7 linked regions of the Homo sapiens genome follow. The protein of the gene in region 4 purifies or fractionates together with the protein of the main gene of each other region. This does not show direct contact. Each region holds a gene or a part of one and is shown on either strand. Other genes may lie near its edges.

The links.
Region 1: the proteins of PRR11 (region 4) and ZBTB11 purify together in Homo sapiens (affinity purification with mass spectrometry; 2 studies listed by BioGRID and IntAct, with this or other methods). This does not show direct contact.
Region 2: the proteins of PRR11 (region 4) and MOV10 purify together in Homo sapiens (affinity purification with mass spectrometry; 3 studies listed by BioGRID and IntAct, with this or other methods). This does not show direct contact.
Region 3: the proteins of PRR11 (region 4) and NVL purify together in Homo sapiens (affinity purification with mass spectrometry; 3 studies listed by BioGRID and IntAct, with this or other methods). This does not show direct contact.
Region 5: the proteins of PRR11 (region 4) and DDX31 purify together in Homo sapiens (affinity purification with mass spectrometry; 3 studies listed by BioGRID and IntAct, with this or other methods). This does not show direct contact.
Region 6: the proteins of PRR11 (region 4) and DUSP11 purify together in Homo sapiens (affinity purification with mass spectrometry; 3 studies listed by BioGRID and IntAct, with this or other methods). This does not show direct contact.
Region 7: the proteins of PRR11 (region 4) and TTF1 purify together in Homo sapiens (affinity purification with mass spectrometry; 3 studies listed by BioGRID and IntAct, with this or other methods). This does not show direct contact.

Annotation. Positions count from the first base shown.
Region 1 is NC_000003.12:101,666,964-101,671,102, forward strand, and holds part of ZBTB11 (zinc finger and BTB domain-containing protein 11), read right to left. Parts: intron 1-4,139. UniProt on the Homo sapiens protein: May be involved in transcriptional regulation.
Region 2 is NC_000001.11:112,684,659-112,688,158, reverse strand, and holds part of MOV10 (helicase MOV-10), read right to left. Parts: intron 1,194-3,500; exon of another isoform or gene 1,053-1,193; intron 1-1,052.
Region 3 is NC_000001.11:224,284,985-224,289,123, reverse strand, and holds part of NVL (nuclear valosin-containing protein-like), read left to right. Parts: intron 1-1,130; coding exon 1,131-1,349; intron 1,350-2,993; coding exon 2,994-3,098; intron 3,099-4,139. UniProt on the Homo sapiens protein: Participates in the assembly of the telomerase holoenzyme and effecting of telomerase activity via its interaction with TERT. Involved in both early and late stages of the pre-rRNA processing pathways.
Region 4 is NC_000017.11:59,158,476-59,162,614, reverse strand, and holds part of PRR11 (proline-rich protein 11), read right to left. Parts: intron 1,852-4,139; exon of another isoform or gene 1,739-1,851; intron 1-1,738. UniProt on the Homo sapiens protein: Plays a critical role in cell cycle progression.
Region 5 is NC_000009.12:132,624,570-132,628,708, forward strand, and holds part of DDX31 (ATP-dependent DNA helicase DDX31), read right to left. Parts: intron 1,177-4,139; coding exon 1,095-1,176; intron 1-1,094. UniProt on the Homo sapiens protein: May have DNA helicase activity and RNA helicase activity. Probably have ssDNA and RNA dependent ATPase activity. Plays a role in ribosome biogenesis and TP53/p53 regulation through its interaction with NPM1.
Region 6 is NC_000002.12:73,762,465-73,766,603, forward strand, and holds part of DUSP11 (RNA/RNP complex-1-interacting phosphatase), read right to left. Parts: intron 4,131-4,139; coding exon 3,954-4,130; intron 396-3,953; coding exon 197-395; 3' UTR 1-196. UniProt on the Homo sapiens protein: Possesses RNA 5'-triphosphatase and diphosphatase activities, but displays a poor protein-tyrosine phosphatase activity. In addition, has phosphatase activity with ATP, ADP and O-methylfluorescein phosphate (in vitro). Binds to RNA.
Region 7 is NC_000009.12:132,400,086-132,404,224, reverse strand, and holds part of TTF1 (transcription termination factor 1), read left to right. Parts: intron 1-1,396; coding exon of another isoform or gene 1,397-1,403; coding exon 1,404-2,770; intron 2,771-3,966; coding exon 3,967-4,139. UniProt on the Homo sapiens protein: Multifunctional nucleolar protein that terminates ribosomal gene transcription, mediates replication fork arrest and regulates RNA polymerase I transcription on chromatin.

The sequences.
Region 1 (4,139 bases), on a different chromosome or scaffold from region 4:
TGGTCTCTATCTCTTGACCTTGTGATAAGCCTGCCTCGGCCTCCCAAAAGTGCTGGGATTACAGGCGTGAGCCACCGCACTCGGCTTTCTTTTTTATTTAGGTACTTTGAGACAGGCCCTTGCTCTGTCATCCAGGCTGAAGCGCAGTGGATTGACCACAGCTCACTGTAACCTTGACCTCCCAGGCTCAAGCAGTCCTTCTGCTTCAGCCACCTAAGTAGCAGGGCAGGCGTGCACCTGGTTATTTTTATATTTTGAAGAGATGGAGGTCTCCCCATGTTGTCTCAGCTGATCTTGACCTCCTGGCCTGAAGGGATACTCCTGCCTTGGCATCTCAAAGTCCTTGGATTACAGGTGTGAGCCACTACACCTAGACGGAGGCAAATATTCTAATTCCGCCTTCTCACACTAGGTGTCATATTACACATACTTTTCTGCACTTTGCTTTTCTAATACAATAATTTATCTTAGAGATTTTTAAATATACAATTGAGAGCCATATTTGCTGTAATTTTCAGTTCTGACTCAAGGTATGTAAAGTGTGGTATTTTATGCAAAAGAACCCACGAAGGATGAACAAACATACAGAGAAGCCTTAAACTTGTGAGATGTTAGGACTCAGGCTGAAAAAAACTGAGGGGACTCCCCACCAACATTATCATTATGGTGAATTCAGCCATTCCTAGGAAAGCTAATTCTTTTTTTTTGTTTGTTTGAGACGGAGTTTCGCTCTTGTTGCCCAGGCTGGAGTGCAATGGCGTGATCTTGGCTCACTGCAACCTCTGCCTCCCATTTGTTGGTAGAAATGTAAATTAGTACACCAGGATGAAAAACACTATAGAAGTGCCTCAAAAAACTAAAAATATAACTACTATATGATCCAGCAATCCCACTACTGGGTATCTACCCAAAGAAAAGAAATTATATCAAAGAGATACCTGCACCCCACGTTTACTGCAGCACTACTCACAATAGCCAAGAAATGAAATCAACCTACATGTTCATCAACAGATGAATGGAAAAAATGTGGTAAATATGCACAGTGGAATACTATTCAGCCATAAAAAAGAATGAAATCCTGTCATTTGCAGCAACATGATAAACCTGGAGGACATCATGCTAAGTAAGTCAAGGACAGAAAGATAAATACCAAATGTCCTCACTCATATGGGGGAGCTAAAAAAAAAAAACTTAGATCATACAAGTAGAGAGAAGAGCTATGGTTATTAGAAGATGGGCAGGGTGACAGGAGGGGAGTATAGGAGGAGGTTGATTAATAGATACAAAATTACAGCTAGATAGATAGAAGGAACAACTTCTAGTGTTCTATAGCACCGCAAGGTATATAGTTAACAACAGTTTATGGTATATGTTAAAAAAGCTACAAGAAGCCTGGCACAGTGGCTCACCCCCTGTAATATCAGTGCTTTGAGAGGGTGAGGCAGGAGGAGTCCAGGAGTTCAAGGCCAGCCTGGGCAACAAAGTGAGACTCCATCTCTATAAACAAATGAAAAAATTAGTTGGACAAGGTGGTGTGCACCTGTGGTCCCACCTACACGGGAGGCCAAAGCAGGAAAATTGCTTGAGCCCAAAAGTTGCTTGAGCCTATGACTGCACCACTGCACTCTAGCCTAGGGTGACAGAATAAGATTCTGTCAAAAAAAAAAAAAAAGGGCTGAAAGAATTTTGAATGTTTTCAACACAAAGAAAGGTGAATGTTTGAGGTGATAGGTATATCCTAATTACCCTCATTTGATCATTACTAATTGTATACATGTACCAAAATATCATTTTGTACACCATAAATATGTACAACTATTACATGTCAACTAAAAATAAAAGGAGCGAGCCTCTCTGAGCCTATTCTGTTTCAGGGACTATCTGAAAATAAATAAAAGGGAAAAATCATTAAGAGGGCAAATTTTGTTTTTTTTTTACAATTTGAAAACTTTATAAAAATATCCTCTCAAATGAAATGGACAATTATAACAGAAGGAAAAATTATGGTGAGGACTTCAAAATCCAGGGGTACGGCAGACTAAGATACCGTAAATGACACACTTATGATAAAATTTTTTTTTGTGGCTAAGACAGGGTCTTGCTCTGTTGCCCAGGCTGGAGTGCAGTGGTGTGGTCTCAGCTCACTGCAACCTCCGCCTCCTGGGATCAAGTGATCCTCCTACCTCAGCCTCCAAAGTAGCTGGGACTACAGGCATGTGACACCATGCCTGGCTAATTTTTGTAAATTTTGGTAGCCACAGGGTTTCACCATGTTGTCCGGGATGGTCTCGAACTTCTGAGCTCAAGCAATCCACCTGCCTCAAAGCTTTGGGATTACTGGCGTGAGCCACTGTGCCCAGCCTTATCTACTTAATATTTAAATCAAACATATTTTTAAAATAATGCCTATTTCACCTATGATTGGCTTACATAATACTTGCTGAACAATATACAAAAATATGCATATGGAATGAAGACTAAATGATGTATTATGTTGGAATATTAGGATGCTGTGCCATAGTTTTTTTCAGGCAGACATTTCATTTGCTATAAACTGCTGAGAAACCAGAAAAGAGCAACACTCATGCTTTCAGATGCATGAAATATAGGGAAAAAATTCCAAAGCAAACATATCAAAAGAATAACCTGTGATGGGTTTTTATATTCAGATGGCTCAGTGTAAGACGTATTTTCTCCTTTGAGTCACCAAACCCAGAAAAAAAAAATACCACTAATCTAGAATGTAATGCCAACTCTAAGCTCCAAAAAGTTTTTGCTCATATGTACACCCCCTGAGCCTAGGCTAGTTCTTTGTATGCAGTGGATGCTTAATAAATATTTATTTATATAGAGAAAGCTATTAGTGCTTTTTTTTTTTTTTTGAGACGGAGTTTTGCTCTTGTCACCCAGGCTGGAGTGCAATGGTGTGATCTCAGCTCACCGCAACGTCCACCTCCCAGGTTCAAGCGATTCTCCTGCCTCAGCCTCCCGAGTAGCTGGGATTACAGGCATGCGCCACCGTGCCCAACTAATTTTGCATTTTTAGTAGAGACAGGGTTTCTCCATGTTGATCAGGCTGGTCTCAAACCCATGACCTCAGGTGATCCGCCTGCCTCAGCCTCCCAAAGTGCTGGGATTACAGGCAGGAGCCACTGCGCCTGGCCGTTATTATTGCTTTCTATAAACATAAAGCCACTGCTAAGGAAAAATGTATCTTCCCAGAAGAGGTAGGACTAAAAACAATAAAGCATAAAAGGATAAGTGGTTAAATAATTAAGAATTTACATACCTGGAAAAGTCACTTTTTTGTTTCAAAAAGGAAAAAATATTTCAAAGTGATTTAAGTAATTCAAAAGTTACAGCAAGTTTTATATGATGAGAAAACGTATAAATAATGCTACCTATAATTCTTCCTAAATTTTCATTTGATGACTCATAAGCCAATATATAAATTCTAGTGAAGCCAAAAGAAAGTTGAACTATTTATTTACAATAATGATACAAACAAAAAACAAACCTGGGATTTTGACTTTTCTATATTGATAATTTGATTATTGAACTTAATAAACTCTAAGGATTAATCTTTAAAAACCAAAAGACTTATAAAATACTCTATAATTACATGTCCCACAAAATAAGACATAAACAGTCAATTTTTATTTGCTTTTTATTTTTAGAGGCAGGGTCTTGTTATATTGCCCCGTCTGGAGAGCAGTGGGTATTCACAGGTACAATGACACACCACAGCCTGGAACTCCTGACCTTAAGCAGATCCTCACATCCCAGCCTCCCAAGTAGGTGGGACTACAGGCGGGCACCACCACACCTAGCTTAAACAATCAATTTTTAAATAACATATTCATTTAATGTAATAATTTTGTTGCACTTATGGATTTCACTCAAACTGTTTTTAACAGTTTAAATCCTAGAAATTCTTTTTCTGCTATAATTGTCTCACTTAAGACGTAGTGAAAGGAAATGACACCCTTTTCCATAACTCTACCACAGAAATCTTGCTAAAAAGAACCTTTTCAGTACAGCTTAGTCTACTGTTGTTAGTGGGCTTCTCTTACTTTGGCATAAAGTCCGTGTGTGGAAGACATACATATCCCCCTCTTCTAGAATGTCATTACAAACAA
Region 2 (3,500 bases), on a different chromosome or scaffold from region 4:
CGAGGAGCACACAGACTGAACATATACATTCCAGCGTGGTGCTTGGAGGGCAGCTCATCGGCCACAGAGGGGCTCAGTGCCACAGAGGGACACTGAGCCCAGTCTGGGGGCAGAGGAGGTGTCCATGAAGGCCTTCCCAGGAGGCAGCATAAGAACTGAGTCCTGAGGATGAGTGGGCATTACCTGGGCACAAGAGGGAGCGCGAAGTGTAAGCAGATGTGAGAGGTACGCAAGAACATGTGCAGGGAGGGGCAGAGGGGGGCGGCCCACTTGACAACTCTAGCCAGGTCAGCTCAGTTGACCTCACCTCTCAGAGCCTCGCTTTCCTCCTCTATAAAATTGGAGGAAAGCGAGACTTACCTCGTAGGGTTGCTGTGAGGTTTACATGAGATTTTGACACGGCAGAGAACCACTTAGCACAGTGCTTGGCACATAGGAGACCTCAGTAAGGGTGAGCCATGATTAGTATCACATACAGTTTCATTGTGCTAGAGTGAAATGCACAAGGAAGGGAGTGGCAGGAGGAGCAGAGGTGGGCAGGGACCAGATCATGGACAGTTTTGCACAACAGGCCAAGCCTGGACTTGACTCTGCATGTCTGCAGTCGTTTTCCCCGCTCTACTGATACCCAGGAGCCTGAGGACATTCCCACGTGCCACATACTTCAGGGACATATTCAAGATCTAGATGACTGACACCCTCCCTTAAAAGCAAATCTTTGTTTATGAGGACTATGGTAATTCCTATTTAACTCTTCAGGCTAAATCATCATGGTCACTCACTAGGGTATGTGATAAGATCATTTATGGTTATGAGTATTTTTCAGGTGCCTGCTGCCTGTAACTCTGCCCCTCTCCTTCACCCCAAGCAAATGAGACTGGTACAATTTGGAAAACATTGAATTGGCTATGATTTGTTTTAAAAAGGTAATAAATCATTCAAAAGCATAATAGAAAATGCTCAGTAAATGTTAGCTACTATTGTTAGTATTTATATTAGTAGAAATAGTAGTACTAATAGTAGCAGTAGTAGTAGGAGTAGTAACAACTTACTTTCAGCCCACGTCAGAGGCTACACTGTGGTTACAGAACCACTGCGGTTGGTGGGTTTTAAGCAGGGGAGTGGCAAGATCATATTTGCATTTCAGATCACTCTGGCATCAGGATTGGAGGATGGATTTGCTGGAGGCAAGACTGTAGGCAGGGAGACCAGTTAGAAGAAGGCCCTTGCAATTGTCCAGTTAAAAGATAACAAAGGCCTGAGCAAGGCAGTGGGTAGAGATACAGAAGAAGAGCGGCAAGATTCGCTAATACTTAGAATGTAAAATTAGCAGAAATTTGGTGACTGACAGAAGGGGGAATGAAGGCTGGGAAGAGGGATGAGTCTAGGATCCCCAAATCAATGGCCTGGCTTCTAGGACTATCTCTGAGATAGGATGTAAGACAAGAGGAGGAGGGGTTGGAGGGACTGACCATGACATTTGGATTTGGATATGATGCGTTTGAGATTCCTGTGGTCCAGAGGCAACCAGCTCCACGAGTCAGAAGCTGAGAACTCAGGCCAAAGTCAAGGTTACAGCCTAGTATTAGGGAGTCCCCAGGTAGTGGTTATAATCAAGGAAGTGTAGGAATCTCCCCAGGGAGTGTGAGTAGTTGAGAGCAGCTACTAGCACAACCCGGGGAGGAAGGGAAAACAAGAAACCCTCAAGAGAGAAAGGAGAATCAGCAAAGTCTCAAAATCAGGTATCAGGATCAAAAGCTGCTGAGGGGTCCAGTAATACAGGGACTGAAATCAGGAGATCATCAGTAACTTTCACAAGGGCTTCTTAGAGTCCATCAAAGTCCCATGGATCGAGGCACAAGCTAATGCCTACAGCAGCTATGCTTCACAGGTATCTTGATCCTTGCAGCCCTTTCAGACACCTGTTCAGTCCATTTTTGAGAGTCACTAGTGTAAGAATACTGCATGCATATCCCTCACAACGCTAAGAAAACAAAGTGCAACCTCCAAGAAAAGTGGCTCCAGGCTCCCAGATCAATGCTGGGCAGAAAGAGGGCTTTGTGGGGACTGAACAAACTGGGAAGTGCATGCCCTGTCTGAAGCAGGTAACTGCTTATCTTCGAACGGGGCCAGTAGGGAATGCAGGCCCCGGATGGCCAGATCTGACTTTCAAGAAAAGACAAAATCAAAATTTTAACATGAAACCTCCTATTTTTGAAAACCTGCATGGCACAAGGGCAGACAGAACTCATCTCTGTAAAATTTCCAAATTCTACTGCAGATGCTATCCCTAAATATTTCTCAAATTATTCTCTATGTCTCTCATCACTACCCAAATTCACCTAACATTGGTCTAGGTAACAGTCATACAAAAATTATTTTTAAAAAATCACAAACTTATTATATTCTTGTCGGAAAAAAGCCCCAATCCTTGTATTATACATGTAATCCTCTATATTTATTTTATTTTATATTTTATTTTATTTTATTTTATTTTATTTTATTGAGACGGAATCTTGCTCTATCACCAGGCTGGAGGGCAGTGGCACGATCTTGGCTCACTGCAACCTCTGCCTCCCGGGTTCAAGTGAGTCTCCTGCCTCAGCCTCCTAAGTAGCTGGGACTACAGGTGCACGCCACCACACCCAGCTAATTTTTCTATTTTTAGTAGAGACAGAATTTCACCATGTTAGCCAGGATGGTCTCAATCTCTTGACCTCCTGATCTGCCCGCCTCGGCCTCCCAAAGTGCTGGGATTACAGGTGTGAGCCACCGTGCCCGGCCGTAATCCCCTATATTTCTAAGAAAAACTTTCTAACCAAGACTGGAAACCAGCAGCTATAAAATAAAACTAGGTCAAGTGTGGTGGCTCATGCCTGTAATCCCAACACTTTGGGAAGCTGAGGTGGTAGGACTGCTTGAGCCCAGGAGTTTGAGACCAGCCTGGGCAATAGTGAAAAAAAAAAAAAAAAAAAGCCAGGCATGGTGGTGCACACCTGTAGTCCCAGCTACTCAGGAGGCTGAGGCAGAAGGATCACTTGAGCCCAGGAGGTCAAGGCTGCAGTGAGCTGTGATTACGCCACTGCACTCCAGCTTGGTTAACAGAGCTTGGGTAACCCTGTCTCTAAAAAAGAAAACAAACATTTCTGACTACTAAAAAATATTTTCTCTAGCAAAAGGTAATATAAACACATTCAACAGATAAATACCAGATAAATACTCATAATGCAGATGACAGGCAAAGGGCTAATTTTTATAATATATAAATTTTCTTACAAATTGACAAGATGAACAATTCAACAGAAAAATCGAATATTCAATTAAAAGAACAGATCCAGATGGCCAAAAGAGTATGAAAAACTGCTCCAAATGTAGAGAAATGCAAATTAAAGTATAAATGAGATATTATTTTATTCCCATTAGACTGACAAAAATGAACATAGTTCTAGCATATATTACTATAATGGGTATGTGGAAAAGTGAACTCATAAATTGCTGGT
Region 3 (4,139 bases), on a different chromosome or scaffold from region 4:
CACACAGGAGTCTGCAGCAGAGACCGTGGCCCACAAAGCCTACGGTGTTTACAGTCTAAACCTTTACAGAAAAAGGTTGTCAACCCCTATTTCAGCATTGGCATTTAATTATATCTCCTGGTTAACTTTTGGTTAGGTAGATTACAGTGGTCTGTTGACACAACTATATCCATGTCGGTAGCTGCAAACAGCTCTGGAGGACAGTCATGTGAATAATAGGGGACAGTTATCAGTCCAAGATCGGTATTAAATTTTTTAGTTTTATGAGTCATGAAAATTCAATATATATATCATTTCATATAGCATTTTATAGCTTGCACAGATGGCTTCTGTATGTTATATAATTTGATCCCTGTAACCTTATATAAATGTCATTTTCCCCATTTTATAATCAAAGGCACTAAGCTTAAGTGGTTGTGATTTCCTCAAGCCCATACAGCCTCTACTTTATAGAGCAGGGGCTTCAATCCAGATCTTTTGTTCTCAGATAATTTGTTTTTTTCTTAGACATTTGAAACTGCAATTAATTCTGTAAAAAATAACAAACTCATTCCTTTTATAATATTGCATATAAATTAATATTTTATAAATTGAATTAATTGGTTACCTGTTTTTTAGACTTATCCTTTCATCTTCTCCACAAAGCAAGAAATCTGCCTTTTAAGTTTAAGATTTGATAGTAATAGGAAAATTGCCTTCCCTCTACTTAGTTGATAAACCATCAAGGAACCATATTAATGAATTATACTACCTCCAGCATAAGTGTTTTAATTTCATCAGGATTCAACTGTTTCTTGAATATTTATAAATGAAACATGGGAAATATTATGGTTGCTGAAATGAATATTTGCCAACGCTTATATTTGCTATACCTAGCCCTAGTATATAGAAGTCATTCTTATATGTTTAATTATAATTATAATTGGTATATCTTTACTTGACCAGAGCATATGATCCTTAAGAATAAAATGAACTTGTCTCATGTCAGAGAGAAAATTATTAAAATACATAGACGTTCAGGATAGCTTACGGAAATATTACAGTAATAATTTTTACAAGTAGAAAATGTAACTTTTCAATAGCTGTTGTGGTGTTTCTTTATTTTTTTCCCCTCTATTGTTCCCTTCAAGGATGAATTACAAAGGCTGCTGGGGTTGCTAAGAGACCAAGATCCCCTCTCAGAGGAGCAGATGCAAGGACTGTGCATTGAACTGAATGATTTCATTGTTGCTCTATCCTCAGTCCAACCCTCTGCCAAAAGGGAAGGCTTTGTCACTGTCCCTAATGTGACATGGGCAGATATTGGTGCCCTGGAAGACATTAGAGAGGAGCTCACCATGGCAATATTGGTAGGTATATCAGCTGCCAAATATTATTGGCATGTCATGGATTAAAGACCAGAGATAAAGCTCCATGCATGTGTACTAGGTTCTGTGGCTAAACTGACTTGACTATAATCACTGTGTCTAACTTGACTTGAATGTAGCACTTCTTTCAAGCCCCCAACAATGGTTTTTCTTTTGTTTGAGATCCGATTTGTTTATTTTTTTAAATTGATGTATCATAGTTGTAAATATTTTTGGGATACATGTGATATTTTGATACATATATTAAATGTGTATTGATGAAGTCAGGGTAATTGGGATATTCATCACCTCTAATGTTTATGTTTTCTTTGTGTTGGGAACATTATACTTTTTTTCTTCTAGCTGTTTTGAAATATACTTTTTTCTTCTAGCTGTTTTGAAATATAATTTCCCTACCGTGCTATCAAATACCAGAACTTATTACTCCTATCTAACTATTTTTTTTACCCGTTAACCAACTTCTCTTCATTATACTCATCTCCACCTTCCCTTCCCAGCCTCTGGTAACCATCAATTTGCTCTCTGTCTCCATGAGATCCACTTTATTAGCTCCCACTATGAGTGAGAATGTGCAATATTTGCCTTTCTGTGCCTAGTTTATTTCACTAACATAATGACCTCTAGTTCCATCCATGTTGCTGCAAATGACAGGATTTCATTCATTTTTGTGGCTGAATAATATTCCATTGAGACCTATTTTATGCTGATCCTTTTGGTTGTGCTTCATTTCTGTAGCAGTGAGTTTAAACCACAAAAAATTATAGGTTTCAGTTAAGACCAAATTGTTTGACAAAGACTTTCTGAACTTGATCTTATGGATCAAGGCAATTTTAATGCACATAAAACTTTGGATTAATTTTTATTTACTTTACTTTTCTACTCATCATTCCATGGTTCATTAATGGAAATATGATCGATTTAGAGGTATGTACTACTGAAAGAGAAAATACACTGGGATTATAGTCAACAGATATCTCTGGCTTTTAACTATGCAAAAGTTACTGCTGCATCTGATTTCTTAGAGGAGACCATTGTCTAAACATTTTATAACCTAGAAATTTAAATGGTTTTCTAAAACATATTTGTTGAAATATTATATCATTATGTCTAAAATGTTCTTAGACATTATGTTCAAGTATAAATTCCTCAAGTGCAGGGACTTTTCTCTTTATCACCACAGAGCATGAACAGGTAAACCAGGTACTGTTCGTATCTTCAGGCCTCACAGTCATGTTGAAAATAAGCCTGAGAAGCTGGGCGCAGTGGCTCATGCCTGTAATCCCAGCACTTTGGGAGGCTGAGGCAGGTGGATCACCTGAGGTCAGGAGTTCAAGACCAGCCTGGCCAACATGGTGAAACCCCGACTCTACTAAAAATACAAAAATTAGCCAGACGTGGTGGCATGTGCCTGTAGTCCCAGCTACTCACGAGGCTAAGGTGGGAGGATTGCTTGAACCCAGGAGGCAGAAGTTGCAGTGAGCCAAGATAGCACCACTGCACTCTAGCTGGGTGACAGAGGGAGACTCAAAAAAAAAAAAAAACCATAAAATATGTATCTGGAAATAATTTGAACCTGCAGTATAAAATGGACATGTAATGGATCGCCGTTTGTATCATTATTTCCAGGCACCAGTACGCAACCCAGACCAGTTCAAAGCTCTTGGATTGGTGACTCCAGCTGGGGTCCTCCTTGCTGGTCCTCCTGGCTGTGGGAAGACTCTGCTGGCGAAGGTATCATATAAGTTCAATTGCATGTAATTTATTTCTTAGTATCAGATAGGATAATATGAACTTAACTTTAAATATTACAGTGAGGTAAGTCTTATGCATAATTTTTATCAGAAGTTTATTTTAGCAAAACTGACAACTTTCTTCATTAAAGTTTCCTACTTTTTTAAATTACAAAGGCACATGATTGAAAAATGTTTATATCAACCATAATCCTATCAATTTTAACATGCAATTATTATATTTTCTGTGTATTACATTTTAGCTTTTTAGTGAGTATTATTCCATAGTTTTAGTTTTTACTTGACTTAGTTTCCTGCTTTGGTATTGTTATTATTTATAACTTAAGTATTTTCCTCTATATTTCTTGTAATTATTTTCTAAAATTGTTTTTTCATAATAGAAAATAAAAATAAGCAAAAAGGAAAAGCATTGTGTGTAATTCTCTCACTGCCACCTACTACTATTATTTCATTTCATTGTCAATCCTTCAGATATTTTTCTATGCATACATATCAAAGTAATATCTAACTTTTAAGTTTTTACATGCATGTTTACAAATATAAGCTTTTTTTATTTTATTTTATTATTTTTGAGACGGAGTCTCATTCTGTCGCCCAGGCTGGAGTACAGTGGCATGATCTTGGCTCACTGCAACTTCCGCCTCCCGAGTTCAATCAATTCTCTTGCCTCAGCCTCCCGAGTAGCTGGGGTTACAGGCATACGCCACCACGCCCGGCTAATTTTTGTATTTTTAGTAGAGATGGGGTTTCACCATGTTGGTTAGGCTGGTCTCGAACTCCTGACCTCATGATCCGCCCATCTCGGCCTCCCAAAGTGCTGGGATTACAGGCGTGAGCCACCACCCCCAGCCACAAATATAAGCTTTTTTAAACATGTTTTTCTCACTTAGCTGTATTTCCTGAACATCTTCACGTCAGTATATATTGATACACATCAATATTTTTAATGCCTGCATAATATTCTACCATAAAGATAGATGTTCTATAATTTATGGAAATGATCCCATATTGAAACAACACT
Region 4 (4,139 bases):
TACCAGAAGAAATAATTACAAGACTTAATAGTGTTGCCTCTGACAATTGGGAGTCAGGATTACAGAGGGGTGGTTTAAACTGGACTGCTATTTTTTTTTGTTATTTCTTTCTAATTCTAATAAGGCTTGTATTGTATTTGACTTTCAAACTTTGGTATGTACCATTAGCTGGAAAATTTGAGTACCACCATTCTGAAACAGGGCCATTTCTTTCTAGTCCTTTCCTGTTGGCTGTTCCAGTGTCTATGCATACAAATTTCTAGAGTCCTACACAAGCCAATGTCTGTCATTTTGGGAATTATTTTTCAATGATAAAGATGTCTAGGAACTAAGTCATATTTCTTTCTCTCTCTCTCTCTCTCTCTGTGTGTGTGTGTGTGTGTGTGTGTGTGTGTGTGTGTCTGACTTGGGTTATTAGTGCTTCTATCTAATCTCCTTCTAATTAAATACAGTAATTGGCACATGCAGAGGATTAAGGAACCATGCAAAATCTGTCAGGGTAGAAAGATGCAGTCTGAGATAATTCCTAGATAGTTAGTTGTTCCATCCAAAAATAATCACAGCTCTTGCGAAAGTGGAGAATAGCAAATTTCTACCTCAGTCAAAACAAGAACACAAAAAATTAAGGTTTGTTTTAGTATCATTACTTAATTAAAAGCATTAGGTACTTTCCAGAGGATAATTGCCCAAATTGAAAGAGTATATAGCAGTCTTCCTTTAGCTTAAAATACGTATACTTATCCCCTTTCCAAAAGCATAATGAGACCTACAAATTCTTTTTGCTGGATTAGGTGGGATTTTAATTGTTAACACTGAATAGAAGCTCATTCTTTTGTGATTCCTTAAAGCATTTTTCCTTTTGTTTTGAGACAGGTTCTTGCTCTGTTGCCCACGCTGGATTGCAGTGGTGTGATCTCAGCTCTCTGCAGCTTTGACCTCCTGGACTCAAGCAATCCTCCTGCCTCAGCCTCCTGAGTAGTTGGAACTACAAGGGCGTACCACCATGCCCAGCTGGTTTTTTTATTTTTAGTTGAGACAGGGTTTCACCATGTTGCCTAGGTGGTCTCAAACTCCTGAGCTCAAGCAATTTACTGGCCTTGGCCTCCCAGAGTGGTGAAATTACAGGTGTGAGCCACTGTACTCGGCCCTTATGTTTTGTGTGTGTGTTTTTTTTTTTGTTTTATGTTTTTGTTTTTTTTTTTTTGAGACGGAGTCTCGCTCTGTTGCCTGGCCAGGCTGGAGTGCAGTGGCATGATCTCGGTTCACTGCAACCTCTGCCTCCCGAGTTCAAGCGATTCTCCTGCCTCAGTCTCCCGAGTAGCTGGGACTACAGGCACACACTACCACGCCCAGCTAATTTTTGTATTTTTAGTAGAGATGGGGTTTCGCCATGTTGGCCTGGCTGGTCTTGAACTGCTGACCTCAGGTTATCCGCCTCCCTCGGCCTCCCAAAGTACTAGGATTATAGGCATGAGCCACCATGCCTGGCCTATGTATTTTTTAAACTAGTTTTTTTCTTACACTGCTTTCTCAAATAATCTGAAAAATCATTAGAAACATAAACATATAGGCAAAGGGCGGTGGTTCAAAGTGCTGTAATCCCCAGCACTTTGGGAGGCTGAGGTGGAGGTGGGAGGATGCCTTTAGCCCAGGAGTTTGAGACCACTCTGGGCAACACAGTGAGAGTCCCAACTGTATGAAAAAAAGAAAAAAAAAAAATCCTGGCGTGGTGGCTCACCTATAGTCCTAGCCACTCTGAAGGGTGAGGCGGGAGGCTCACGTGAGCACAGGAGCTTGAGGCTGCAGTGACCCATGACTGCGCCACTGTACTCCAGCCTGGAACACAGAGCGAGAAACTGTTTCCAAAAAAAAGAAAAAAACAACATAAATATCCTAAATAACTCTATGATCTCTAGAAATTACTCTCATTTTTACTTACATCTTCTTTTCATTAAGAAAAGATTTCTAGGCTAAGGAACCAGCAAACTGGTACATCTGGAGCTCTTGATAACAAATCAAACAATAATAAAGGTCATATTATAGGCCGTGCATGGTGGCTCACGCCTGTAATTCCAGCACTTTGGGAGGCCAAGGTGGGTGGATGGATCACTTGAGGTCAAGTTCGAGACCAGACTGGCAAACACAGTGAAACCCCATTTCTACTAAAAATATAAAAATTGGAATGAGGTTCAGTCTAAGAAAAAACCCCCAAACCAAAACCGAAACCAACCAACCAAACAAACAAACAACAAGAGGAAGTATACTGTAGGGGTTAAGGATGAGGACCAGGGAGTTATACTGCATAGGTTCAAATCATGGCTCTACTATACTGTCATAACTTATTTATGACCTTCAAGAGATTCTTAGCCTTTCTGTGTCAGTTTCCTCCCCTGTGAAATAATAATATTAATAGGAACTTACTTCAGAGTTTTGAGGAGTACATGAGTAAATCATGTAAAGTATTTACAGTGCCTGGCAGGCAATAAGTTTTATCATTATTATCATTATTATTCTTTGATTCTTTTTTTTTTGCTGCTTGAGATTACTATATCAGATTTTTTAAAATACAAGTTTAATTCAACAACATATAGTGATAACTTGCTATGAAAATGAATAAGACACATTCCTGCCCTCCAAGAGTTTACAGTGGGGAGAGATGGGTAAGCAGAAAGTAAACAGGTATACAATAGTGTATGGGTTATGATGGGATATGTATATGATATTAATGGAGAAATAAAGCAAGGGTACATAATTCTCCCATAAGGGTTGAGGTTTTTGGAAAAGGTTTTGCCTAAGCTGAGCTTTGATGAAGGGGCTAGGTTAAGGTGGGCCTAGGGAGGACTCATCCCATCAGAGGGAATAACATGGAAACATTTCAGAGAAAGGTATGTCAGGGGATTCAGACAAGACTCAGTGTGACTAAAGCATATCCTGCAACGTAAAGTTTTGTCAGGGGGCAATGAGTGATGAAGCTGGAGGGTGGATAAGGACCAAGACATCAGAAACAATAATGGATTTTAAGCAGATAATTGTCATGCTCGTATTTCTTCTTTAGAAAGAATGGTTTGGCAGCATCGTGGAAATTGGATTTATGGGACCATGACTGAAGACAAAGAGACCACTTACAAACCTACTGCAACTGTCTAGGGGATGAGGACCTGATTATAGGAGCGACAGTAGGGTATCTAAATACATCTAACTGCTTATGTTCTATGTTCAAAGTCAGAAGTTCAGGGGAAAGACACTAGAGAAATACTGCACTCATAAGTGTATAGGTAGCTTGAGAAAATAACAACACTAGAAATGAGTGAAATTACCCAGAGAAATATGTGGAGTGAAAAGATCTATGAGCTGATTACCAAACTTTGAGAAACACCATGTATAAGGAGTGGGTAGAGAAAGAACTAGAAAAGGCATGGCCAGGAAGGTGAAAAGAATGCAGAGACAATGGAGCTCCTATTGGAGTAGAGGGTTATAAAAAAAGAGGGTGTGGGAGGCTGGGTGCGGTGGCTCACACCTGTAATCCCAGCACTTTGGGAGACTGAGGTGGGTGGATCACCTGAGGTCAGGAGTTCGAGACCAGCCTGACCAACAGGGTGAAACCCTGTCTCTACTGAAAATAGAAAAATTAGCCAGGTGTGGTGGAGTGTGCTGTAATCCCAGCTACGCGGGAGGCTGAGGCATTAGAATCACTTGAATCTAGGAGGTGGAGGTTGCAGTGAGCCAAGATCACGCCACTGCACTGGGTGCACACCACACCTGGGTGTGGGCCAATGTGAGTATGAATCAGAAATATTTCTCTGATTAATTTACCCTGTCTCTTCTCCTTACCATCCCCCTCCGTTCTGTCCTCTAACTTCAGTTGCCTTCACTTTTTTCATTTTTGTCTTTCACTATTGTCTATTTTCCTTTACTGTTTTTACTTAGAAAAATTTCAAGGCTCCAGGAAATAAAAAATTTACAATAGTATAATAAGCACTCATATACAGTTCACCTAGATTTACCAATTGTCAATTGCCGTCTTTGTACACACACTCTTTCTGTACGTATGTACAAATATATACATACATAAATTTTTTTAGTTTTGGATTGAATAGATTTAGTTGCAGACATCATGATACTTTACTCTTAGATACTTT
Region 5 (4,139 bases), on a different chromosome or scaffold from region 4:
GAATGACTAAAGCATATTAGTGTGCCCCTGTGAAAGTTCCTTTACCTCTCTAAGTCTCAGTTTCCTCATCTATAAATTGGGGCCATCACCAACTTCTCGGATTGCTATAAGATTAAATGGGACCGTGCACATAAAGAGTGTAGCACAGTCCTAGGTTGGGAACACACACTTTGCTAATAGAGGCTATGGCTATCTCCTCTCCTGGTATTACATACATTTCCTTAGATGCTCTCTAAAACAAGAGAATTTAAGTCAGGCTCAGTGAAACGGGGTCCCTCCCTGCTCAGGGAGAATAATGATCCAAATACAGGCACATGCTAAAGCATGAAAGAAACTCTTAAGCTTGATCTATCTGGCCCTGATTTTCCAGTTCATCCTCAGGCATACAAAAACAAATGTAAAATATTCAAGTGATTAATATCTCATAGACAAAATTACATACAGCAACACTGCACCCACACACGGGAATACTGAGTAAGGGGGTGGGGTGGGGTGAGGGAATAATGGTCTAGTCGGGTGCAGCCTTAAGAGAAGGAGCAGGAAAGGGTGTCCAGGGCTGCCTGCACCTGCTCAGAATCTCCATATGGAACTGCATGGATAATAAAAATTTTTCTTCTTAATGATCTCAACTTTACTCTTCCTCTGTGGATAGCACACACACATTAAAAAATGGATGAACTAACTGTGTCTGAAAGGAGACACAGAGATACTTATTTCTTCCATGCTGTCTGGGATAGGCAGGTCTAGGCAGCCGTCCTTGCTGAGAATCTGGACAGGGACCACCGGGGCTGAGCGTGTGGCACTGCCTCCAGACTCATTCTGGCCTGGACCTCCTTTCTGGGGAGCCTGCTGCTGTCTGGCAGGCTTCCAGAATGGACCGTAGCCCACTCGCTAGATGAGAGTGGCAAACGCATCCAGAAGCAAAGACGAGGAAAAAAAAAAAACAATCAAGATTTGGCCTCATCTAATGTTCATGGTTCTTAAAATAAATGTATTGCTTGACAGAGGAAGTAACCCATACACAAAGTCTCTACTACCCCAAATCAAGTGAGTCACATCTGTTGGCAGCGAGCACAATAAATAACAAAACTCACCTGGGCTCCCCATCGTTTCCCTTTAAAACAATCATCTCTTGTCAGAACACACAAAATATCTTCCATCTTAATCTCAGAAACGCTGTAAAAGGAAGGGCACAGCAAGGTAACTTTTTGCTCTTTCAAAAACACCCAAGACCTTGATGCACAAAACTGGCCTATTCTTGAGCTAATTAGACATGAAGTAGAAGTGACACCTTCCTAGGAAAGGAAATATTTTCCTAAACCCTTAGGAATTGAGAAGGGGACCTCTATGATATTAAAGGGACAGGATGATATTCCTGACAATTTCTTTCCTCTCTGATGAATTTAAAATAGGCTACATTTAGAATTTCCTTAATAGAGATTATGTCATTATTTCTTAATAAATCTTGAATACCAAATAAGTGTGCCCACTCACTGATCCACTCCCTTGATTTGAGCAGATGATGATGAAATAGAAGCATTTTGGTCTCTTTAGTTTATACTGAAGAGGAAAAAAAAAAAAAAAAGGAAGAAAAGGGTGGCCAAACATCCTCCACTGTGGGGTAAACACCCCTGTGAGGGTAACGAGGGCACAAAGCCCTGTCCCAGCAGCACTGGCCTTTCTTCTTCTACCCTGGAGGAGCTTCACTCCCCCATCTCTTAATTACTGATGGGTGAAGACCAAAGGATCTCTAACGAAGCCGGAGCTGTGTGCCAAGCACTGAGACAAGAGCTTGGGCTTCACTCAGGAACAGAAGCCACAAGGAGCCAGAACACAACAGTCAGACCTGCCTAGCAGTGGAGTCTGGAAAGCCTCCGCTTCATCCAATCAACTGCAAGGCCACAGCATTTGAATGTAGGGAGCAAAGAGAGACTTGCGTGTCAGAGATGAAGGAAGAAACGTGAGCTGCTGAAAGGATACTTCCCAGGGAGAAAGAGAAACAGAAAGAGAAGAAGGAGTTCTGAGGGGGAAACAGATCATAAGAAGACAAATGATTTTGTTGTATGCTCTTTTTTTTTTTTGAAAATGTAACAGCAAATTAAAACATGAATGGCAACCTCTTAGGTGGGAGAAGACAATTCTCCCCCTTTCACCCAAAGGTTACTCTGACAAGGCTATGAATGAAAATGCCACGTCTCTGACAGCGATTTACCTGAAATGTGTCATCTCCCTGCACACCCCCAGCCCTCACCCCTCAGCATCCTCTCTCTGCTGCCAACTCACAGCCCTATGGATGAGTGAAGCCTTTTTACAGCAGCAAAGAGTCAACCAGAGGAGGCAGAGCATGCTCTGAAAGGGCAGGAGTCAGAGGGAGAGTGCCCTGACTTCATGGGAAATCTATTTTTCATAGGAGAGAGCAATGCATGGGTATTGAACTCGCCTCTCATTTGTGCCTGGCACCCCGAGGGAAGGTGAAAACAGAGCCCAGTCCCATCTTTTTCTTGGTCTGATTTGCTTCTATTCATCACTTTTTTCTTGAGAAAAAAAGAGGAAAAACACAAAAATAAAAGAAATGCAAGAATTTGGAGTCAAATCTTGAAGCAGAAAGAAAAGAGTAATGCCGTTTGCAGTCAGGAACAGAAAAAGCTAAATATGCCACAGAACAGTAAGGCAGTGTTCTCAAATGCGTGTGCTGATATTCCAGCCAGAGTGTGGCTCATATGCTGTGTCCACATGGCGACGTCGGGGAACCACACACCCTAAGCAAACAGGAGCTGAGAGGGAACGGGAGTGATTTACAGTTTAAAAGGGCCTTCTTCCTCTTCCTAAGAAACTGCTGCTTCTGAGGAACAAAGCAAATCTACTATGATTATTTATGGGTCCATCAACAGATCTGAATCACCTCACCTTAGTATGAAACGAGATGGATAAATAAATAAATTCAGGGAACTGTCTTATGCCTGATCTAAGAAATACACATTTTGATGAAGCATTTACATTTTAATAAACCAATGATGATTTTCATTAGAAACACATTTAAAGGGGAGGCAGAAAAAAGTTAAGAAGTTGACAAATACAAAGAAGTCAAAAGAATGCAGAAGCAAAGTTCTGAGCATCTAGACAGAGGTGGCAATGGCCCAGGAACCTGTCTCTTGCCCTGTCTGCTCCATTCAACTGCTAGGGCGAGCACCGCAGTGCTCGATCTAGGAAGGCGGGCAGCCATTTGTCGTGCTGGCCCTTGCTGCCGAGAGCCTCGGCCTGCCTTCTCCAATCTGCCCTGTGGTGCCTCAGCCCTCCCAACGCCCCTCTGCCTGGCTCTCATGTTCTCAGGCACGAAACATGCACATGCTTCCTCCTCAAAAAATATTTAGGAGTCGACCTTTTGGATTCTAGAAACTTTCCAGTCTGCTTCTTCCCACTGCGCACTTTGCAACTAGTTAATAGGGGTTTTGTTGTTGTCGTTGTTGCTGTTTTGCATTAAGTCAAAGAAACAGTTCATGTATAGATACAGCCAATGTAGGGCCTTTCCTCAAACAGAAATTGGGAAGAACAATGCATGACTGCAACGTAATAACCCAGATTCTGATGTCTGTTTAAGTTGATTACAGTGCACCCACGAGGCAGCAGCAGTCCAGGCCCAGGCCCCTCACAAGTGAGTTTTCAGAGCCGACGCCAGTGAAGTGGGGCTCATGCAAGGACCCTCCCTCCTCACGCAAATGCTCTTCCACCACCCTGCAGAGTTCCTCCCCAAAAGACCTACTTCCTCCTTTCAGAAGAGGTGGCGTTATCACTGAGTTGTCTCCTTTCTAATGCGGGATTAAAAAGGGAGTCACGTAAATGCGGGCACACTATTTTTTCCAGACAAGATCATCACAGCAGATGATGGTATTTGTTATGTCTTTAAAATATACCTGACTCCCTAATACTTCGTGCCTTTGCTAATCACTGTTTTCCCTTCTCAATTTTAGCTTTATATCTGAGCCCTTCATAGCAATCTACTTGAATGTGTTATTAGAGAAAAATGAAGAGAGCAGAGAGAGGCACCTCTGCTGTTAACTCTGGCATTAGACAATTATCATTGGGCTCTGCAACTGCTGTCACTCATTTTTCTTAGGAAGAGGTCATGTTAAAGTGAACGA
Region 6 (4,139 bases), on a different chromosome or scaffold from region 4:
AGATTGTTTTTCCTGCAATGCTGTAATTACTGCAAATTTATCAGCAAAGAGGTAAACAGCAATGCAATTTTTCCTTAAGCTTGAATACATAAGGGAACAATAAAGAAACCTGATTAGACCTGAACTAATTAAAAGTCACACCAGTAATTTTCAGGCCAGCTCTGGTCTCCAGGTAGAATTCCAGGACAGGTTTGTATCACTGGGTCCATTCCCAACAGGCTGGATAGGAGAGTCTGGAGTAATTATAAGGATACCACCTTCTTCTATCCTGGGCTGCCCGACTGGCATTGGGCTTCACATTCCAAGAATACCTCCTGTGTGAATAGTCCTCTCCAGGGGGACCAGGAGGAGGGAGATGGTGTCTCTGGTAAACATGTGGATTCTCTGAAAATTTTCTTAAAGCAAAACAAAAAGTAATAAGCCATTACTAGGATTAATACAATAATTTTTATTTATTTTAAATTTATATTTTCATAAAATATTTTAAATTTATAAATTTACAAAATAATATATATTCTACTGTTTCCTACCTGTGTGACCTAAGCAGATAAAATACTTAATTGTTATTTCCCTAAGTTCTTTATAAAATGGGGCTAATAATACTTTTCACCTTCACGAGCTGTTATGAAGCTAAATTAAAAAAATACATTTCAATTACCTACAATGCCCTGGCACACCGTGGATTCCCAGAAGCCTTTCCACCTTTCCCTACAGAGATAAATGCATGCCCATACTATTCTAATCAAATACTTTCTCTCCCAAAGTCTGGCAGGGTTGACATAAGACAGAATAAGCTAGTTAGTACTGAGAACAGATATCTGCTTCCACTTTATAAACGAACATACATAAATTAATTATGAAGTGTGAAAAACTTTAAGCATGGTATATGCAACAAATTTGAAAAATTAGGATTTAAATTAACTTGTTTCAAAAGCAAGACCAGAAAATCTCATATAATTATACAAAAGAAAATTTGGGGCTGGGCGTGGTGGCTCGCACTTGTAATCCCAGCACTTTGGGAGGCCAAGGCGGGCGGATCACCTGAAGTCGGGAGTTCAAGACCAGCCTGACTAACATGGAGAAACCCCATCTCTATTAAAAATACAAAGTTAGCCAGGTGTGGTGGTGGGAGCCTGTAATCCCAGCTACTGGGGAGGCTGAGGCAGGAGAATCATTTGAAACCGGGAGGTGGAGGTTGCGGTGAGCTGAGATCACACCATTACACTCCAGCCCGGGCAACAAGAGCAAAACTCCATCTTACAAAAAAAAATAAAGAAACTTTGGAAATATGAGAAAAGAAAAACCCCCCACTGCAGAGCCCTCAATCCCACTTACTATAATTCAATTAGTTAGTATTTCCTTTTGTTCTTTTCCCCAGCATCTTTTTCTGACTGTTGAATCACAGCCTATTAGTTTCACTTATCATAAATGAGCTAACACTTCCAATGGCTTTATAAAATGTTATAGTATGGATATAATTATTTAGCTACATTCTCCACTGTTAGAAATATAGCAGCTACAAGTTTTTCCACAACCACAAATAATGCTGGGATTAACACTGCAAAACATATACTACTGTATCCTGAGCTAGCCCAGCATCTGACACATGGAAGGGAGTTTGAGAAATGTGCTGAATGATTAAGTAAATATAGCTTTTTCTGTACTTTGAAGTATTTCCTTAAGTCTCAGAATGAAATTACTAGGTAAAGTATTTTTATGGCTCTTGAAATTGTGCTTCAAAAGGCTTATACCAATTTTCAATGCCGCAAGTGACATGTTTTTTGAAATGTTTGTTTACATCTTTTAAAAATGTCAATTTTTTTAAAGTTTCTTTTTTCTTTTTTTAATAAAAACAGGATTCCAGCATGTTGCCCAGGGTGGTCTCAAATTCCTGGGCCCAAGCAGTCCTCCCACCTTGGCCTCCCTAAGTGCTGGGATTACAGGTGTGAGCCAATGCACCTGGCCTAAAAATGGCAATGTATTTTTGAAAGTGTTTACAACGTGCTAAACTGTTTAAATTCATGTTAACTGTCAATAACAACCACTATGGGGTATGTATTATTAAAATATCTATCTGACTAATGGGAAAAATGAAATGTAGATAGGCTAAGTATCTTATCCAAGATCACAAAGCAGGTGAGTAACAAAGCCAACATGCAAATCCAGGTCCAGCCTGACAACCACTACAATGGAGTGCTTATCAAAAACTGTTGCTAAACTGGCTGGGCGAGGTGGTTCATGCCTGTAATCCCAGCACTTTGGGAGGCCGAGGCAGGCAGATCACCTGAGGTCAGGAGTTCAAGACCAGCCTGGCCAACATGGTGAAACCCCCATCTCTACTAAAATACAAAAGTTAGCTGGGCGTGGTGGCAGTGCCTGTAATCCCAGCTACTCGGGAGGCTGAAGCAGGAGAACTGCTTGAACCTGGGAGGTGGAGGTTGCAGTGAGCCAAGACTGCACCACTGCACTCCAGTCTGGGCGACAGGGTGAGACTCTGTCACCAAAAAAAAAGCAAACAAAACTGTTGCTAAATTAATAGGCAAGAATAATAGCTTGCTATTTGTGATAGTTAATTTTAGGTGTCAAGTTGACTGGGTTAAGAGATATCTAGATAGCTGGTAAAGTATTATTTCTGGGAGTGTCTGTGAGGGTGTGTCCAAAGGATACTGGTGTGTGAGTGGGTGGACTGAGTGGGAGGATCCACCCTCAGTTTGCGTAGGTACCATCCAATAGGCTGGGGGCCTGGATACAACAAAAAGGCAGAGGAAAGGCAAATTGTGTTCTCTCCTGGAGCTGGAATACCTTACCTTCTTCTCCTACTCTTGGACATTAGAACTCCAGGCTTCATGGCCTCTGGACTTGAGGACTCATACCAGTGTCCTCCAACCCTTACCAGATTCCCAGGCCTTCAGCCTTGGATTGAGAGTTACTCCACTGGCTTCCGTGGTTCTGAGGCTTTCTGAGTTGGACTGAATGCTACCAGCTTCCCTGGTTCTCCAGTTTGCAGACAGCCTACTATGAAACTTCTCAGCTTTCACAAGTGCATAAGCTGATACCCCGAATAAAAAAGCTCCTCCTCCCATCCACCCACCCATCCACCCATCCATCTATCCATCCATCCATCCATCCATCCATCCATCCATCCTACTGGTTCTATCATTCTGGAGAACTCATACTAATGTACCACTTTAACCATACTGAGGTCTTCCCCATTTTCCAAGTGAAAATACTTTTGTCGTTTTATCTGTTCAGATCCTTTGCTATTTCTCTATTAGGATTTTATTATTTTTCTTATAATTCATATCAACTCCTTAAATAACAATCTTCCTTATTCTAAAAACTATACTACATTAATGTAGCCTAAGAATATAAGATCCTTTTTGATAGCCACATCAAACTCTTGGCTTAAGTTTAAAATCAATCAAAATTTCTAAGTCCCTTTCCGAATTGCCTCTGAAAAGTCACATATTCCCTGTCCTGTAACTGATTTTCCAGTGCTAAATGCAAAATACAGAGCAGAATAATATCTCCTGGTTCAAACTGAACAGCAAGAATTCCTTATCGGCCAGGCGCGGTGGCTCACGCCTATAATCCCAGCACTTTGGGAGGCTGAGGCGGGTAGATCACAGGGTCAGGAGATCAAGACCATCCTGTCTAACATGGTGAAACCCCATCTCTACTAAAAATACAAAAAATTAGCTGGGCATGGTGGCGGGTGCCTGTAGTCCCAGCTACTCAGGAGGCTGAGGCAGGAGAATTGCTTGAACCTGGGAGGTGGAGGTTGCAGTGAGCCGAGATCGCGCCATTGTACTCCAGCCTGGATGACAGAGCGAGACTCTGTCTCCAAAAAAAAAAAAAACGAAGAATTCCTCATCAGTATCATAATGTGTTTTCATTAACTATAGTATTAATTTCTATCTCAATTCTAGAAAAGGGAAAACAGAGAGAGGTACCTGACTGATTGTTGCAAACTTTGGGTCTGGGTGTGGAAATGTCGAGGAGCTGAGTGACCCTGGATCTGATGTAGATTATACCTAGGTCCTTGTTTAACAGGCTTATTGTGGACTGGTTGCATGAGATGTGCTGAGTCTTCAAAATCACTTGACCTGGGTACACTGGAATTCCAATTCCTTAAAGAG
Region 7 (4,139 bases), on a different chromosome or scaffold from region 4:
CTATGTTGTTAGGTGAAAATAGCAAATGCAGATCACAATATATAGATGTTAACCTTCTGTGTAAAAAAGGAGAGGAAATATGAAGATCATTTTTATTTTTGTACGACGTAAATGTGTCATTTAGCCAAAGATAAATCTAAAAAAATGAAACCCAGAAGCAATACAGAGCAAAGAGAACAATAAGACATGTTTGCAAAATTATATTTTTAATCATCTCTTTTGGAAAGTGCATTTATATTTCTGTATTTTAATTCCAAGTGCACACACCCTGTATGTGAGTATTAACGTTAGTGGCTTGTGAAATTTATTCCAGTGTATCGCAGAACGTCCGCTCTTTGTTGGACACTAACAAGGCATATCCAACTTCTTTCACAAAGAGGCCAACTTCTGGTTTGAGGTCAGTGGATACCTGATATCCCCACTGCGAAGCCCTTTTGTGGATCCTGCACTCGAATGGAGTCTAATGGCTTCTCCATGGTACAAACACAGAGGGGAACAAGACAGATAAACCATCTTTTTCTTCCTTGTTTTCTTTTTTCTTTGTCTTTTTTTTTTAAAGCAGAGAAGACAGCCTGTAAATGACTAAATAAATGTTTCTTTTTTAAATATGAAAGTATATTACTTGGGAATCAGGCCAAGCCCAAGGAATCAGGGAAAACTTTTTGAAGAACTGATCTTCAAACCAAGCTCTGAAGGATGGCAGGAGGCAAGGAGGGTGGGGAGGCTGTGGAGAGAATTTCATGGAGAGCTGGGGGGGAAAGGTTATGGCACGTTTGAGGAAGCAAAACAAGCTGCTTTTGGCTTAAACGCAGAGTTGGAAAGACGAGTTCAGAGGTGAGGCTGTGGGGGACAGGGGCCTTATGGTGCAAGGCACTGTTGTTCTCTGTTAACTCTTTTTTTCTCTATCATAAAGGCAGTGGGACCAGACAGAGAGAATTCCAGTGAGCCACCTGTGTATCTAGAATAATCTGAAATTTGTAATCATGACTACAGGCTTGTCATTTGTCATACAATTTCATTTTGCTGTGATTTTTTCCGCTGAGGCTATGTTTAAAATGCAAAAATAGGCCAGGCACGGTGGCTGACGCCTGTAATCCCAGCACTTTGGGAGGCTGGAGTGGGCGGATCATGAGGTCAGGAGATCGAGACCATCCTGGCTAACACAGTGAAACCCCATCTCTACTGAAAATACAAAAACAAAATTAGCTGGGCGTGCTGGTGGGTGCCTGTAGTCCCAGCTATTCGGGAGGCTGAGGCGGGAAAATGGCATGAGCCCAGGAGGCGGAGCTTGCAGTGAGCCGAGATCGCGCCACTGCACTCCAGCCTGGGCGACAGAGTGAGACTCCGTCTCAAAAAAAAAGCAAAAATAAACCATTGTTGTCACATTTCCATATAGGAATAAAATGGAAGGAGAATCAAGCAGATTTGAAATCCACACTCCAGTTTCTGACAAGAAAAAGAAAAAGTGTTCTATACATAAGGAAAGACCTCAGAAACATTCCCACGAAATTTTCAGAGACTCCTCCCTGGTGAATGAACAGTCTCAAATAACTAGGAGGAAAAAGAGGAAAAAAGATTTCCAGCATCTCATTTCTTCTCCTTTGAAAAAATCCAGAATCTGTGATGAGACTGCAAATGCCACTTCCACACTCAAAAAGAGAAAAAAGAGAAGATATAGTGCTTTGGAGGTGGACGAGGAAGCAGGTGTTACAGTTGTCCTTGTGGATAAAGAAAATATTAACAACACACCAAAGCATTTTAGAAAGGATGTTGATGTTGTTTGTGTTGATATGAGCATAGAACAGAAGTTACCAAGAAAGCCTAAAACAGACAAATTTCAGGTACTTGCTAAGTCACATGCACATAAATCAGAAGCCCTGCACAGTAAAGTTAGGGAGAAAAAGAATAAAAAGCATCAGAGGAAAGCTGCATCCTGGGAGAGCCAGCGGGCAAGGGACACCCTGCCTCAGTCAGAATCCCACCAGGAGGAGTCCTGGCTTTCTGTGGGTCCAGGGGGTGAAATTACAGAACTACCAGCATCTGCTCATAAAAACAAGTCTAAGAAAAAAAAGAAAAAGTCCAGTAACCGGGAATATGAGACACTGGCCATGCCTGAAGGATCGCAAGCAGGCAGAGAGGCCGGGACTGATATGCAGGAATCCCAGCCTACTGTGGGCTTGGATGATGAAACTCCACAACTACTAGGACCTACTCACAAAAAAAAGTCTAAGAAAAAAAAGAAGAAAAAGTCCAATCACCAGGAATTTGAGGCATTGGCCATGCCTGAAGGATCACAAGTGGGCAGTGAGGTTGGGGCTGATATGCAGGAATCCCGGCCTGCTGTGGGCCTGCATGGTGAAACTGCAGGAATACCAGCACCTGCTTATAAAAACAAGTCTAAGAAAAAAAAGAAAAAGTCCAATCACCAGGAATTTGAGGCAGTGGCCATGCCTGAGAGCCTCGAGAGTGCATACCCTGAAGGATCACAGGTGGGCAGTGAGGTTGGGACTGTGGAAGGCAGTACAGCTCTTAAAGGGTTCAAGGAATCCAACAGTACAAAGAAGAAGTCTAAGAAAAGGAAGCTTACGTCTGTCAAAAGGGCACGAGTGTCTGGTGATGATTTTTCAGTGCCCAGTAAGAACTCTGAGAGCACACTCTTTGATTCAGTAGAAGGTGATGGCGCCATGATGGAAGAAGGTGTGAAATCTAGGCCCCGACAAAAGAAAACCCAGGCCTGTTTGGCAAGCAAGCACGTGCAAGAGGCGCCAAGGTAACGAGGGAGTGGTATTCCAGCTGCTGGTATATTTCTTTCGTATGGATTCTGCCGATACCTCTTTATTTAGCACAGACTTTTTTTTATTTTTAATTTTATTTTTATTTATTTATTTATTTATTTTTGAGGTGGAGATTTGCTCTTATTGTCCAGGCTGGAGTGCAATGGTGCAATCTCGGCTTACCGCACCCTCCACTTCCCGGGTTCAAGCGATTCCCCAGCCTCAGCCTCCTGAGTAGCTGAGATTACCGGCATGCACCATGCCTGGCTAATTTTGTATTTTTAGTAGAGACGACGTTTGTCCTTGTTAGTCAGGCTGGTCTCGAACTCCTGACCTCAGGTGATCCGCCTGCCTCAGCCTCCCAAAGTGCTGGGATTACAGGCGTGAACCACCGTGCCTACCCTTAGCACATACATATTAAATGGCAAAAATCATCAAGAGGTAGACCCTCATTGTACAGAATATCGTACATCTTTAATTGTGTAAACTTGGCAGGTAGTTTAATTTCTTCATGTGTGAAATAAGACAGATTCGATTTTCACTAAGAACTATTCCAGCCCTAGAAAATCTATGAGTAAATTTAAAAGCCCAAATTACCTTTGAAAAATATAAAAGCCCAAATTACCTTTGAAAAATAGTCTGAGCAAATAACCAGTGGAAATGGGGCTTAGGGCTGCACTTTTAGCTTCTAGGCTCCCTCTGAGATATATCCAAGTAATTCAAGTTCCAGTAAAAAGTTTGAAAATCACAGACTGAGTCAACTCCAAGATCTCATCTTGCTTTAATATTCTAGTAGCCTAAGTGAGAGCCATTTTAAGAAAAGTTTAAGGCCAGGCGTGGTGGCTCATGCCTGTAATCCCAGCACTTTGGGAGGCCAAGGTGGGTGAGTCACTTGAGGCCAGGAGTTCGAGACCAGCCTAGCCAACATGGCGAAACCCTGTCTCTACTAAAAATACAAAAGTTAGCCGGGCGTGGTGGCGCGTACCTGTAGTCCCAGCTACTCTGGAGGCTGAGGCAGGAGAATCGCTTGAACCGGGAGGCAGAAGTTGCAGTGAGCTGAGATCGCACCATTGCACTCCAGCCTGGCGACAGAGCAAGCCTCTGTCTCACGAAAAAAAAGAAGGAAAAATTTTAAAGTTATGAGGTCAAGTGATGTGTTAATGTTAGTCAACCCAATTTTCTAACCCCTTAGGTTAGAACCTGCAAATGAAGAACACAATGTGGAAACAGCTGAAGATTCCGAAATAAGATACTTATCTGCAGATTCAGGAGATGCCGATGATTCAGATGCGGATTTGGGTTCTGCCGTGAAACAGCTTCAGGAGTTCATTCCTAACATCAAGGACAGGGCCACCAGCACAATCA